Linked DNA regions of Homo sapiens. The protein of the gene in region 1 purifies or fractionates together with the protein of each later gene. This does not show direct contact. Each region holds a gene or a part of one and is shown in the gene's direction. Other genes may lie near its edges.

Evidence for each region. The genes of interacting proteins can lie anywhere in the genome.
Region 2: the proteins of CIART (region 1) and TPM2 purify together in Homo sapiens (affinity purification with mass spectrometry; 2 studies listed by BioGRID and IntAct, with this or other methods). This does not show direct contact.

Annotation. Positions count from the first base shown.
Region 1 is NC_000001.11:150,277,751-150,286,051, forward strand, and holds the start of CIART (circadian-associated transcriptional repressor), read left to right. Parts: upstream 1-4,803; 5' UTR 4,804-5,517; coding exon 5,518-5,883; intron 5,884-6,054; coding exon 6,055-6,130; intron 6,131-6,675; coding exon 6,676-6,754; intron 6,755-6,846; coding exon 6,847-6,958; intron 6,959-8,301. Other genes in the region: uncharacterized protein LOC124904414, read right to left, coding at 3,911-4,266; uncharacterized protein C1orf54 isoform a precursor, read left to right, coding at 1,890-1,988. UniProt on the Homo sapiens protein: Transcriptional repressor which forms a negative regulatory component of the circadian clock and acts independently of the circadian transcriptional repressors: CRY1, CRY2 and BHLHE41.
Region 2 is NC_000009.12:35,682,432-35,687,384, reverse strand, and holds the end of TPM2 (tropomyosin beta chain), read left to right. Parts: intron 1-1,604; coding exon 1,605-1,738; intron 1,739-1,833; coding exon 1,834-1,951; intron 1,952-2,045; coding exon 2,046-2,116; intron 2,117-2,245; coding exon of another isoform or gene 2,246-2,577; coding exon 2,578-2,653; intron 2,654-2,834; coding exon 2,835-2,897; intron 2,898-3,069; coding exon 3,070-3,139; intron 3,140-4,143; coding exon 4,144-4,226; 3' UTR 4,227-4,453; downstream 4,454-4,953. UniProt on the Homo sapiens protein: Binds to actin filaments in muscle and non-muscle cells. Plays a central role, in association with the troponin complex, in the calcium dependent regulation of vertebrate striated muscle contraction.

The DNA of each region.
Region 1 (8,301 bases):
CAAGGAGCCTAGTAAGTTCTTCATTATGGTAAAAACACGATGAAAAGTGATATTTTAGAAAAACCGGCCAGGTGTGGTGGCTCACGACTGTAATCTCAGCACTTTGGGAGGCTGAAGTGAGCTGATCACCTGAAGTCGGGAGTTCGAGACCAGCCTGACCAACATGGAGAAACCCTGTCTATAGTAAAAATACAGAATTAGCTGGGTGTGGTGGCACATGCCTGTAATCCCAGCTACCTGGGAGGCTGAGGCAGGAGAATCGCTTGAACCTGGGAGGCGGAGGTTGCAGTGAGCCGAAATCGCGCTATTGCACTCCAGCCTGGGAAACAAGAGTGAAACTCCATCTCAAAAAAAGAAAAAGAAAAACCACTCTTCAGGTTGTATGCAGGATGTAAATAATTTAGTGGAAAGCAACTCATGAGATTTGCGTTGTTCCAGAAACAATCTGTACTCTGGCATTATGAATGGAGAGGAGAAAAATAAATATTATGAAGAAAATACCTTGCTTGAGTGATAATTTTATATGAAGTATAAATGAGGAGTGAGTTAAAATAACTCATGGGTTTTAAACATGGATGTCTGGGAAAATGGTTGACCAAAGTGGGAACTATGGGAGGCCAGAGTGGTTTAGGACAGAAGTTATTAATTTGGTAATGGCCAAGCTGAGTTTATGGTGACAGCCCTATGAGGGTGTCCTAAAGGTCACTGAACTAGATCAGGGCTAGAGTTCTAAGTGCAAAGTCACAGATATGAAAGTAAATGAGCTCAACAGAGCCAGTACACACAAGCTCAGAAGGCCAGTGACTGTGCCTGTAGTGAGTGGGAGGAAGAGAAATTAATGAATGGAATGGAGAAGGATTTGACTGGAGAAGTAGGCAGATAGCCAAGTTTGTATTATAGAGTCTAGAAGAGAAAGTTTAATATAATCCATCAAAAGCTACCAAGAGGCCAAGGAGGAGGAGGTCACTTGTAACTCTCAAGAAAGTAGTTTTAACTGAGTGCTTGGAGAAAAGCTAGATTTTTGTGGAGTTAAAGAGTGAGTACATTATGAGGAAAGGGAGGTGAGTACAGACCAACCATCTAAAAAATCTGGTAATGAAAAAGAGAAGCAACGGCTGGAAAGGGGAATAGGACCAAAGAGCAGCCTGCATATAGTTGAGCACAGATGAAAGAAGCCAGTAAGAATGGAAGTGAAAGATTGACAATAAGGGCAGTTAATTCTTTTTGAAGTATACAGTAGGCTGGGCGCAGTGGCTCACGCCTGTAATCCCAGCACTTTGGGAGCTGAGGTGGGCGGATCACCTGAGGTCAGGAGTTTGAGACCAGCCTGGCCAACATGGCAAAACTGTGTCTCTACTAAAAATACAAAAATTAGCCAGGCATGGTGGCGGGTGCCTGTAATCTCAGCTACTTGGGAGGCAGGCAGGAGAACTGTTTGAACCCTGGAGGTAGAGGTTACAGCGAGCTGAGATTGCACCACTGCATTCCAGCCTGGTGGATATAAAAATAATAATAAATAAACAAACAAATAAATAAAATATAGAGTAGACTCTCTTTAGATTGTAAATTCCTTGAGGACAGGAATCTTGTCTTATTCATATTTATGTCCCTTTCTATAGCACCTAGCACAGTGACTAGTATAGTATAATGCACATAATAGATAAAAAATAGAAACAATTGAATTGAATTGGCCTCCCTGGTATGGTCAGGGATAGCTGAAAGGCACAGAAGGACTCCTTACAGTGATGGGGAAGGATGGATCTTTCTCTAAGCCCAAAGGAAAGGAAGACAGAGGTTGTTGTAAAGAGGTGGCAGTCTTTCTGGAGGGGGACAGAGAAGTGGTAGGAGGAATGACACCAGCCTACTGTGTGGGGATGTCGGTATTTTAGCAGAGTCCAGATCTGAACGATGCCGTGTCCAGTTTGCGAAGTCCTATTCCCCTCCTCCTGTCGTGTGCCTTTGTTCAGGTGGGGATGTATTTCATGTAGAAGGTAAGAGTGCAGCCACTGGCTTTGGGGGAGTCTGTGAAATAATATTTTTTAACTTCCCACACTAAACCGAAGTAATTCTTACCAGTATCTCTAGTTAGTGTTTCCAGCCTGGTCAATTATCAGCCACTGAAGGAAGAGATTTAGGCTCATCCCTATAATCCCAGCACTTTGGGATGGTGACGTGGGAGGATCGCTTGAGCCCAGGAGTTCCAGACCAGGCTGAGCAACATAGTTTAAGTCCAGGCTGAGCAACAGACCTTGTCTCTACAAAAAAATTAAAAATAAATAAATAAGAACTCCTCTACAAGACGTTAAAAAAATTAAAAATAAAAATTAGTTGGGTGTGGTAGCACAGGCCTGCAGTCCCAGCTATTGGGGGGGATGGGGTGGAAGGATCCCTTAAGCCCAAGAATTGGAGGCTGCAGTGAGCCATGATCTGGCCACTGTACTGTTGCCACTGGGCAACACAGTGAGACTGTCTCAAAAAATAACAAGTAAAATGAAAGAAGAGGGATCACATTTAGAAAAATCTTCTTATTCAGTCTTAAAGAAGTTTAGGAGATGCTGAGGCAGACTTTTGTGATGAGTCATTACTTTTTCTGAACTAAGAGGACTTCAGGATCTCCTAGAGCAGATAGATGATGGGGTTGGGGGAATACTTCTCCAAGCTTCCAAAATGTCTGAACAATCAAAGCTAGTTCCAGCCTGGCCACGTTTCAAGTCATGGCGAATGCCAGAGGGCAAAGTGGGTGGGTCTTACAACCTGGTAGAGTCAAGAGGCAAAGTTCAGAGGCAGAACGGATGGCGGTTCTCTGATGTATGGCAGGGCGGTGGGAGAGAAGGGAAGAGAAAGCCGTATTATAGGAAAAGAATTTTTAAATTGGGATGCTAAATAACCATTGATCATAGAGAGATTCAGCAGGAGGTGAAAGGACTGTGGAGGAGAGGGGTACACACACATCTTTCCCAGGAGCTATCACAGAGCAATCCCAGCTCAGAATATCTGGGGAGTTTCCATAGAGTGTGGGGGGCATGAAGGGGTTTCTCGGGTCTCCTGACTCCTTTTATTTTCTTTCTTTCTCTGCTTTTTTAGGTGGAAGAAGGCTGCTATGACTCTTTGGATGGGAGTCTGGCAAGAGGAAATTGGAAGATAAAATAAATAATAAGTGAAATAATCTGGTTACCATCTACTCCTTCATGAGTCTGTTCTAAAGTCACAACTAAAGAGAGCGCCAGGATTTAGAGGCAGCAAGCGTAGATTGGAAGGGGAGGTGGGTGACAATTGAATTAGAGGGCATTATGGACTGAATAAACCTGCAGTTTGGAGAAGACTGGAGAAGGGCACCCACAGACAACAGGTTTATTCACAGTCCATATTGGTAATTCTCTTGTTTTATTTTATTAAGTATGGTGTTGAAACAGTGTGCTTGGGGAAACGAGGTTGAGGTTTTAGAATCTTTTTTTCTTTTTATAAGAATAAGCACATTGTTAAAACATAAGGTAAAATATCAAAAACTACTTAGAATAGACTTAAAATATTCACACCTACCCACCCCTACCCACACCTCTGTCCAACAATGTGCCTTTTGCAGTTGGTAATTATGGCAGGGACAAACTCACTTAAATTTTTTTTTAATTCGCTATCCTCGGGACCCTAATTAGAATTGGGCTGCCCCCTTGCGGTCTCTCCGACGTCCTATCTTCAACCAGCTCACAGTCCTTGGGCCCTGCTCTCCTCTCCATTGTACTCTCAAAATGCAAGGCGCAACGACAATAGTAACGTCCCAGTTACTTCTGAGACTCTCTAAACTCTGGACTTGCCTCCCTCCCCTCCTTCAAAGTCTTTCGAATCTTCTCCAGCGGACAAATGAAGGGACTGAAGCTGGACAAAACCATAACCTAGGAGATCAGGGACCTACCCCATTCTGTTCCCCGTGCTTGGAATCAGATAATTTAGGACGCCGGGCCCGAGAAGCCTGGATAAAAAAGTCAGGAAAAACTGAGTTTCGTTTTGACCTCTAGCGTCGTGGCGGGCTGGCATCTGAGCTGGTAACGTGCGTGGTAGGTTATGTAAGAAAAGGGATGGAGGAGCCGCCCCAGCGGGAGCCAGAAAGGACGCGGTGTTCTCGGTTGCAATCCCCACCCTCCTCACCCAGCAGGGCAGGAGGCACCCAACTTGGAGGAGAAAGGGGTGGGGGAGGTGAAACAGAGACCGGAGAGTCACGAGGGCTGGGCCGCCGAGAGCAGGAGAATATACCGTGTCACACACCTCCATTCTCTCACACACGTTGCAGACACAAATCACTGACGGTTTCCACGTGCTGCGCTCGTGAGCGGAGGTGTTCAAAGAGGGGGCAGATGAGTTACTTCCCGAGACGGAACCGGGGGTCCCACGTCCGCCGCCTTCAGTAGCACAACCAATCTCTGAACACTCAAACCGCGCATCTCTGGCGCATCACCATCCTATTTAAGGCCACGGGCTCCGCCCTTTTCCTCCCCTCCCTTCTTTTCCACTCTTTTTCCATCCTCCTCCTTTTCTCATCACCGGGTCCTCTCCAGCAGCCGCATGTAGGGGAGGAGCACGGAATGCTTCCCTTACAGCCAATCATCACCTGGCTGCCTCTCTACTGGCTGAGCCCCTTTGTACTGTAGCAAATGGGCTATGGACTTCAGTAACTAGAGTCACGTGTTACCGGCGACACAACCAATGAGGGCGCGAGATCTGTGTAAGCAGGGGGAGGCACGTGCCGGGCCGCACGTGTCTGGGAGGGGGGGGAAGGGGCGGGGCCCACTGAGAGAGGCGGAGGTGGGTAGATAGACCCGGAGAGACGGCGAAGGAGCTGGAAACCGAGCCAGGGCTGAGCCGGCTGACAACAGGTAAGGAGATTCGGAGGACAAAGCGAGCTGTTAGGGAGTATTTGGGAGTGGATTTGGGGGCTGAATGCAGATCTTGGTATTGGGAGGGTTTGCATCACGTGGCAGGTGCGAGCCCAGAGAGACCGGCGCAGGGATCCTGATCTTGAAAGATTGGGAGAGGGCAGGAGGCCAGTCTCTATGGGGGCGGTTCCCGTAGGATCACCAGGTGGGTTCGCGTGCCCAGATTGACTGCTTGTGGGTGGCATGGCCTCAGGTGGAGAGGCTTGCTGCGGACTCAGGCTGGCGAATAGCCCTGGCGAACAACGGGCGGAGGGGAAGGTGTCTTTCAAGTCGGTATTTACTCTGAACTGAGGGAAGAAAAGAACGGAGGCCGCGTCAGACCGAGAGCTGCTCTGCGGCGGCCAGAGAGGGAATCCCAAGCTCTTAATGGGCGGGGGTGGGGGTAGAAATGTCTTTTTCTATTGTGTTTGAGACCGGTAATATTGGGGAGGGGGAGAACAAGTATTATCCCACGCAGTACACCCCAATCTCCCAGTTCATTTCCTAATCCTTAAACTCTGGTTTCAAACTCCCTCGCTTTGCTCTTCAGTTGCAGGTTCCGATCTTTGGGTACTCCAGGAGCTGTTCTATAGCCCCTGCTTCTGGACCTATGGATTCTCCATCTAGCGTTTCTTCCTATTCCTCCTACTCTCTCTCTTCGTCTTTTCCCACCTCCCCAGTGAACAGTGACTTTGGCTTCCCCTCTGATAGTGAGAGGGAGGACAAGGGGGCCCATGGGCCCAGGCCAGACACTGTTGGGCAGAGGGGAGGTTCACGGCCCAGCCCGGGTCCTATCCGCTGCAGGCATCGATCGAAGGTTTCCGGTAACCAGCATACACCATCTCATCCGAAACAGCGGGGTTCGGCTTCTCCTATGGCAGGATCTGGGGCGAAAAGATCAAGAGATGGTGAACTGGAGACCAGTCTAAACACCCAAGGTTGTACCACAGAGGGAGACCTGCTGTTTGCCCAGAAGGTAAGAGAAAGCAGGTGAAAGGAGATTCTCCTGGAGTGCCTTAGCACCCAGCTGGTTGATAAGGACCCTGTGAGGACAGTATTGACTCCCAGATTTGGAGGTGAAGGAAGAGCCACTGCTGGTGTGGGCAGTTTTTTGTCTTCTTACAGCCTTTGTCCTATTTTCCTACAGTGTAAAGAACTCCAAGGATTTATACCTCCTCTCACAGACCTACTCAATGGGCTGAAGATGGGTCGTTTTGAGAGAGGTAATCTTATTGTTGCATTCATTTGGGCTAGGTTCATTTCTCTTTCTCTTTCCCTCTTTTGACGTGTATTTCTCTGAAGTTCTTGTTTGGGGCCTATATTACTCCTTTTTTGCTACTATGACTTTATTATTATTATTATTATTATTATTATTTTGAGACGGAGTTTTGCTCTTGTTGCCCAGGCTGGAGTGCAATGGCGCGATCTCGGCTCACTGCAACTTCCACCTCCTGGGTTCAAGCGATTCTCCTGCCTCAGCCTCCCCAGTCGCTGGGATTACAGGCGCCCACCACCATGCCCAGCTAATTTTTGTTATTTTTAGTAGAGATGGGGTTTCGCTATGTTGGCCAGGCTGGTCTCAAACTCCTGACCTCAGGTGATCCACCCACCTCAGCCTCCCAAAGTGCTGGGATTACAGGCGTAAGCCACCTTGCCTGGCCCGACTTAATTTTTTTAGATCAATCAATTTTAACCCCCTTCTGTTCTTCCTTTACCTGACTACATGCTTGAATCTCAATCCTTAATCTCTCTCTGTCCCTGTCCCCAGGATTAAGCAGTTTTCAGCAGAGTGTGGCAATGGACAGGATCCAGCGTATTGTAGGTGTTTTGCAGAAGCCACAGATGGGGTAAGTCCCGCTGGTTCTTTGCTTGGGTCTTCATAAAAAGGAGATTTCTCCAATCCTGTTGCTGGTTTTTTAAAGCAACGTCATTTTCACAGGGAACGTTACCTAGGAACCTTGCTACAGGTAGAAGGGATGTTAAAGACTTGGTTTCCACAAATAGCTGCCCAGAAGTCATCATTGGGTGGTGGCAAGCATCAGCTGACCAAGGTAAGAACTTAAGAACACGAGGAAGAGGTGGGAAAATAGCCAAGAAAATGAAATGTGCATGCAGAAATGGCCCCTTTTGCCATTTTCTTTTGAGTCTTTTCTTCAAGTTTCTTTTCAGGGAAGGAAATTCCTAAACTTTCTGCATTGTCTTGATTCCTACATGTTTTGTTGTTGTTGTTGTTGTTGTTGTTTTGTTTGAATCACTGGGAGGAACTCCATGAAGTTTAATCCTATCCCTCATGCCACAGCTTATCTGCTTTCTGCGTAGATACAAAAGGCTTTTTACCTGGCCAAATGATTCATGCGGGAATACACCTCAGCTTCTCTCTGCAAACTCTTTTTTCCCTACTGCCCCCAAACCCTTCCCTTCTCCTTCTTTTCATTTCTGCCCACGTATCCTTGTGCCAAACCCTTTGACAGTTTTTGAGTCTACACTGGGTTTCAAGGACTGGTCATAAGAGGTACCTCACTGGAAGTAGGGGAGGGGGGCACCAATAGCAGCAGTGTTGATAGATTCTTAGACCTGGTATAGAAGTGACCTATTTTCAGCCGGGAGCGGTGGCTCACACCTGTAATCCCAGCACTTTGAGAGGCCAAGGCGGGTGGATCATGAGGTCAGGAGTTCGAGACCAGCCTGGCCAAGATGGTGAAACCCCGTCTTTACTAAAAATACAAAAATTTGCCAGGCATGGTGGCGCACGCCTGTAGTCTCAGCTACTCGGGAGGCTGAGGCAGGAGAATTGCTCGAACCCGGGAGGCAGAGGTTGCGGTGAGCCGAGATCGTGCCATTGCACTCCAGCCTGGGAGACAAGAGCGAAACTCCATCTAAAAAAAAAAAAAAGTGACCTATTTTCTGTCCTCAAATAATAGGGTATGTAGAGGGCATTCAAATGACGGAGAAGGAGAGTCTCCTGTAGATAATCACCAGTCCTAATTTTCAATCAGCCATGGTTATTATTGCTGTGACTAATCTATTAAAAAATAAGTAGGCCAGGCACAGTGGCTCACTGTAATCTTAGCACTTTGGGAGGCCAAAGCAGGAGGATTGCTTGAGCCCAGGAGTTTGAGACCAGCCTGGGCAACATGGTGAAGGCTGCTATCTACAAAAAATACAAAAAGTAGGTGGGCATGGTGGCGTGCACCTGTAGTCCCAGCTGAGGCTGGGTGGGAGGCTGAGGTGGGAGGATCTCTTGAGCTTGGGAGGTCGAGGCTGCAGTAAGCCATGATTGTGCCAGCCTCGTTGACAGAGTGAGACCCTGTCTCAAATATAAAATTTTAAAAAAACAGTAGGAGGATCTTGCCTGAATATTAATTTACACTTCTTAAAGAACTCAAGATAGAAT
Region 2 (4,953 bases), on another chromosome or scaffold:
GGGATAACCTAATATTTATGGAATGTGGACCCTGTGCAGGCAATGTACTCAGTGCTTTCTGCATGTTATTTTACAATTTCCCAAACTTGGCTTATCATCAGAATCACTCGGGGGCTTTAAAAAAAAAAGAGAAGATTCCCAAGCCCCCGCCCTACACATCCCAATTCAGTGGATCTAGCATGGAGTAAGAGAACCTGTTTAGTTTTATGAGTCTCACCGAAGGTCCTGTTGATTAACTGAGTATTAAAAGCAGTGGATTATCTCAGAACAGCCTTAAGAAGGAGGAACTGTTATTGTTAACTCCAACTTGTGAAGGAGGAAACTGAAGCTTAGAGAGGCTAAATAAGTTGCCCACAGTTACACAGGTGTTGAGTGGCTGAGCCGTGGCTCAAAGACAATCTGACTCAGAGCCGATGCTCTTAACACGTGGCTGCCCTGCTCCTCTCATTTTCCTTTACTGGCGCTCGCCTTGCTCTGCCCTTTTTCTCAGTGTTTGACCAGTTTTTATGGATTTTTTCCAAAACCTCCATGGTTTTGCCTCCTACTGCAAGCCCAGGGGCTGAGTAGACATCCCTCACACTGCCCCTGCATTGCCCCCAGCTCTCTGCTGGCCTTGGCAGGGAGCCCCTTGCTACAGCCATGGGTATTCCTTATAGGCCTGCCTCTTGGGCTTCTTGCTGGGAGTCTGCCTTACAGCTGATGACAGATGACATCACTGAACTTGATACTTTTTTTTTTTTTTTTTTTTGAGATGGGATCTTGCTATGTTTCCCAGGCAGGGCTCCTGGGGTCAAGCTGAACTCCCGCCTTAGCCTTCGGAGTAGCTGGGATGACAGGCATGCACCACCATGCCCAGTATCACTGAGCTTGATTCTGTGACGGGCTATTCTTAGCAGCAGTGATGTCTGGTTGGCCTGATTCTCCTCCCATCCCCTTACCTGGGCCAGGCTTTGCTGTGTAGGAATCAGAGCTGCATCAGACCTGGCCCCAGCACTTGAAGTGCTCCCACAGGGAACAGGAGGACTTGTGTGCAGGTGACCTTTGGGAGACTAACTGTGCACAGTGCAGGAGAGGCCCTGCAGCAGGGGAGCGGAGCTTGTCAAGCAAGGAATGCATGTATTTTTTTGTTTTTTTGAGATGGAGTTTCGTTCTTTTTACCCAGGCTGGAGTGCAGTGGCACGACCTCAGCTCACTGCAACCTCCGCCTCCTGGGTTCAAGTGATTCTTGTGCCTCAGCCTCCCAAGTAGCTGGGATTACAGGCATGCGCCACCATGCCTGGCTAATTTTTTATTTTTAATAGAGACAGAGTTTCACCATGTTGGCCAGGCTGCTCTCAAACTCCTCACCTCAGGTGATCCACCCGCCTCGGCCTCCCAGAGTGCGGGGATTACAGGCGTGAGCCACCATGCCCGGCCTGAATGCACATTTTTTACTGGAGCACAGTCTGGGCAGAAGATGATTGGTTGGGGAAAAATCACATAGAATGTCTAGAAACCAGGAAGCCTCAGTTCTTTCTGAGAAGAATCTCGCCATCCTCTGGAGCCTCTCTGATCCTTATCCAAGGCTAACAAGGCCTTTTTGACCCCTGACCTCTGACCCACAGGCTGAGGCAGATGTGGCCTCCCTGAACCGCCGCATTCAGCTGGTTGAGGAGGAGCTGGACCGGGCCCAGGAGCGCCTGGCTACAGCCCTGCAGAAGCTGGAGGAGGCCGAGAAGGCGGCTGATGAGAGCGAGAGGTGGTCAGGGGCCTCGGGGAGGATGGTCCGGGAGGGAGAAGGGAGCCTGTCTCTGCTGGTCCTGACCCTACGCTCACCCTCTCCCTGCCTTTCAGAGGAATGAAGGTCATCGAAAACCGGGCCATGAAGGATGAGGAGAAGATGGAACTGCAGGAGATGCAGCTGAAGGAGGCCAAGCACATCGCTGAGGATTCAGACCGCAAATATGAAGAGGTGACAGCCTTGCCCCTCTGCCTGCTCGCTGCCCAGCCTGCAACATGCCCAGTCCTTCTCCACTGATCTACCCTCTCTTTCTCACTCCCCACAGGTGGCCAGGAAGCTGGTGATCCTGGAAGGAGAGCTGGAGCGCTCGGAGGAGAGGGCTGAGGTGGCCGAGAGGTAAAGATACCCGGGGGTGACAAGTGAGCCCATTGGCCCTGGGGCCTTCCACACAGTGGGAAGGTAGCATCCTAGGCTTGGGGCTGTAGGGACAGGCCCTGTTCTCTGACCCCTGCCCGCTGCCCCCAGCCGAGCCAGACAGCTGGAGGAGGAACTTCGAACCATGGACCAGGCCCTCAAGTCCCTGATGGCCTCAGAGGAGGAGGTAGTGACCCCTCTGAACCTTTCTGGGCAATGGCGCCTTCTCTCAGCTCACCTTCCCTCCGTCTCAGCACCGCAGGCTGCTCTTTCTCAGCTGCTGGGGATCAGGAAGGGCCTGGGGCTTCTGAGCCCTGCCTGCTGTCACTCTCACAACTTTGCTCTTCTCTTCTCTCCTCCACCCGTCCCCTGCTGTGCCATCTCCACTGTCTGGCTTCGCTGTGCCCTCACACCCTGCCCCCCCCGCCACACACCCCCTGCAGTAAATGTGGGGACCTAGAGGAGGAGCTGAAAATTGTTACCAACAACTTGAAATCCCTGGAGGCCCAGGCGGACAAGGTAGAGGGGAGCAGAGGGGCAGTGAGGATGGGGTCCCACAGGGGAGGGAGGTGAGGGGCCCAAGGCAGGGAGGGGCTGGGTGTTCAACGGAGGCAAGATGACCAGGAGCCTACGGGGTACAATGGAGAAATGAAGGATCTGTGGTAGCGCTGTACTGATGGCGTGTGTGTGTCCCCAAAAGTATTCCACCAAAGAAGATAAATATGAAGAGGAGATCAAACTGTTGGAGGAGAAGCTGAAGGAGGTGAGAGTCCTCTTCCAGTTCCCAGTCTCCCCTCAAGCCACCCTAATCCTTGCCAGAGACGGCCTGTGGCAGGACACTTGAGGGTTGGGATGGACAAGAAGCTTGACTTAGGCAGTAGTCTGTGGGAGGGCCTAATTCTTTGCCATTTCTCCCATCCTGCCTTTACCCCCAGGCTGAGACCCGAGCAGAGTTTGCCGAGAGGTCTGTGGCAAAGTTGGAGAAAACCATCGATGACCTAGAAGGTAAAAGAAGCCTTTATAAGTAGGTCCACACCTGCCGTGATTATCAGTCTGTCCTGTACCTTCTCATCCCATTTTATTTGCCACCAATAAACTAGGGTTGGGCCACCTAGGACCCTACCAACTCCCCAACTCTGTGGGCCATGTCTACAATTCAAGTAATTGTAGCTGCCCACGGCGCAACAACTCCAGTGCTTCTCAAACTTCAGCATGCATGAGAATCACTGGGAGAGTTTTAAAAACAGATTCCTTGACTCTGCCCCAAAGAGATTGCTGACTTTGGGCTGGAGGATTTACATTTCTAGCTAGTTCTCTGGTACTGCCAATGCTGCTGGTCCTCATGCCACACTCTGAGTGGCACCCTTATAGACAATTCCGTCCCCGAGTGTAACGCAGTAGAGTTCTAGTGCAGAGACTGGCTTATTAACTAGAGAGCTGTTGGACTGAACATCTAGGTCTGCATGACAGCACTAATAGAAAACACTATTTTAAGCTAGATTTGACAAAAGCAAACATCCAGATATTTGTGAGTCTGTGGCTATTTCTATTGTTAATGATGATGTGGCTAAAGTTGCCTTTCCTTTTTATTCTGTGATAACCCTTTCACTTTCCCACTTCTCTCGCTTCCAGCCTTCTCAGGCAAGCTCCAATTTTACCTCCAGCTTTAGGAGGTTTGCCCTTTCTGGCTCCAGCACCCTCCCTCTCCCCTCTAAGCAAGCACTCCTGCTTGTCGAGAGCATTGTACACACAGCTCCCTGGAGAGGCAGGAGCTGCCATGGGTAGAGCCAATTTGGGGTACAGAGAAGGACAGAAAAGAGATGGGGTAGAGATGGGGAGAAGGAGTTCCTGACAGCTGTCCAGCCTGTTCCCTGGCCTCCCTCTCTCACTCTGTCTTTGTGTACCTCTGATTCTGTTTTTCTTTCCATTGCTCTCTCTCCTTCCTTTCCTCTTTCCCTCCACTCCCTTTCCCACACTCCCACCTGGTCCCCTCCCTGGACCCCCCCCAGATGAAGTCTATGCCCAGAAGATGAAGTACAAGGCCATTAGCGAGGAACTGGACAACGCACTCAATGACATCACCTCCCTCTGAGCCCCACGCCAGCGTGGCCACCTCAGCTCTCTTCTCTCCTCTCCTTTCCATTCTCTCTATGGGGAGGGGAGCAGGCAGGAGGAGCAGAAATTGCCAACATTGCACAGCCAGGCTGGGAGCAGCCTAGGGAGAGCCCCCATCATGCCCACCACCCACTCTGGCACTGGCTTCATCCTTTACCTATCCCCTTCCACCCTCCTTTGCTGCTTAATAAATTCTGAACTTGGTCTCCATGCTGTTTTCCTGCCCTCCAGAGAGCACCTCTATCGCCACCACGGAGCACTGGTTCACTCCTGACACCCTGGCACTTACTGACACCCCCAGCCCCTGCACTGAGCCCACCCACAAAACACCATGGCCCACGCTGAAACCCCTCTGCACAGGCACTCCCTGGCTGTCGCTCTCTGATTCACCACTGCATGTGGGCACGTGTGGCCCCATCAAACCATGACCGCCTCTGGTGCCAATCCCTGACCTCAGAGCACTTAGCTGGGGTTCCAGGATCAAACAGAGTGACTGGAAAGGAAGTAGGGTGGTGAGGTGCAGGACAGGGGCAAGAAGGTTGCAAAAGGTCTGGAATGGAGCTTGGAAAAATGTTGGATATCAGCAACATGGGGCTTTCACTGCAGCAGCAGGTCTGTTTTCTACCTCAAGTCTGTCTGTCTGGCCCTTCCTTTCCTGGCGCAGTCTTTGTCTTACCTTCTGTCTCCAACTTCCTTAAACCTTC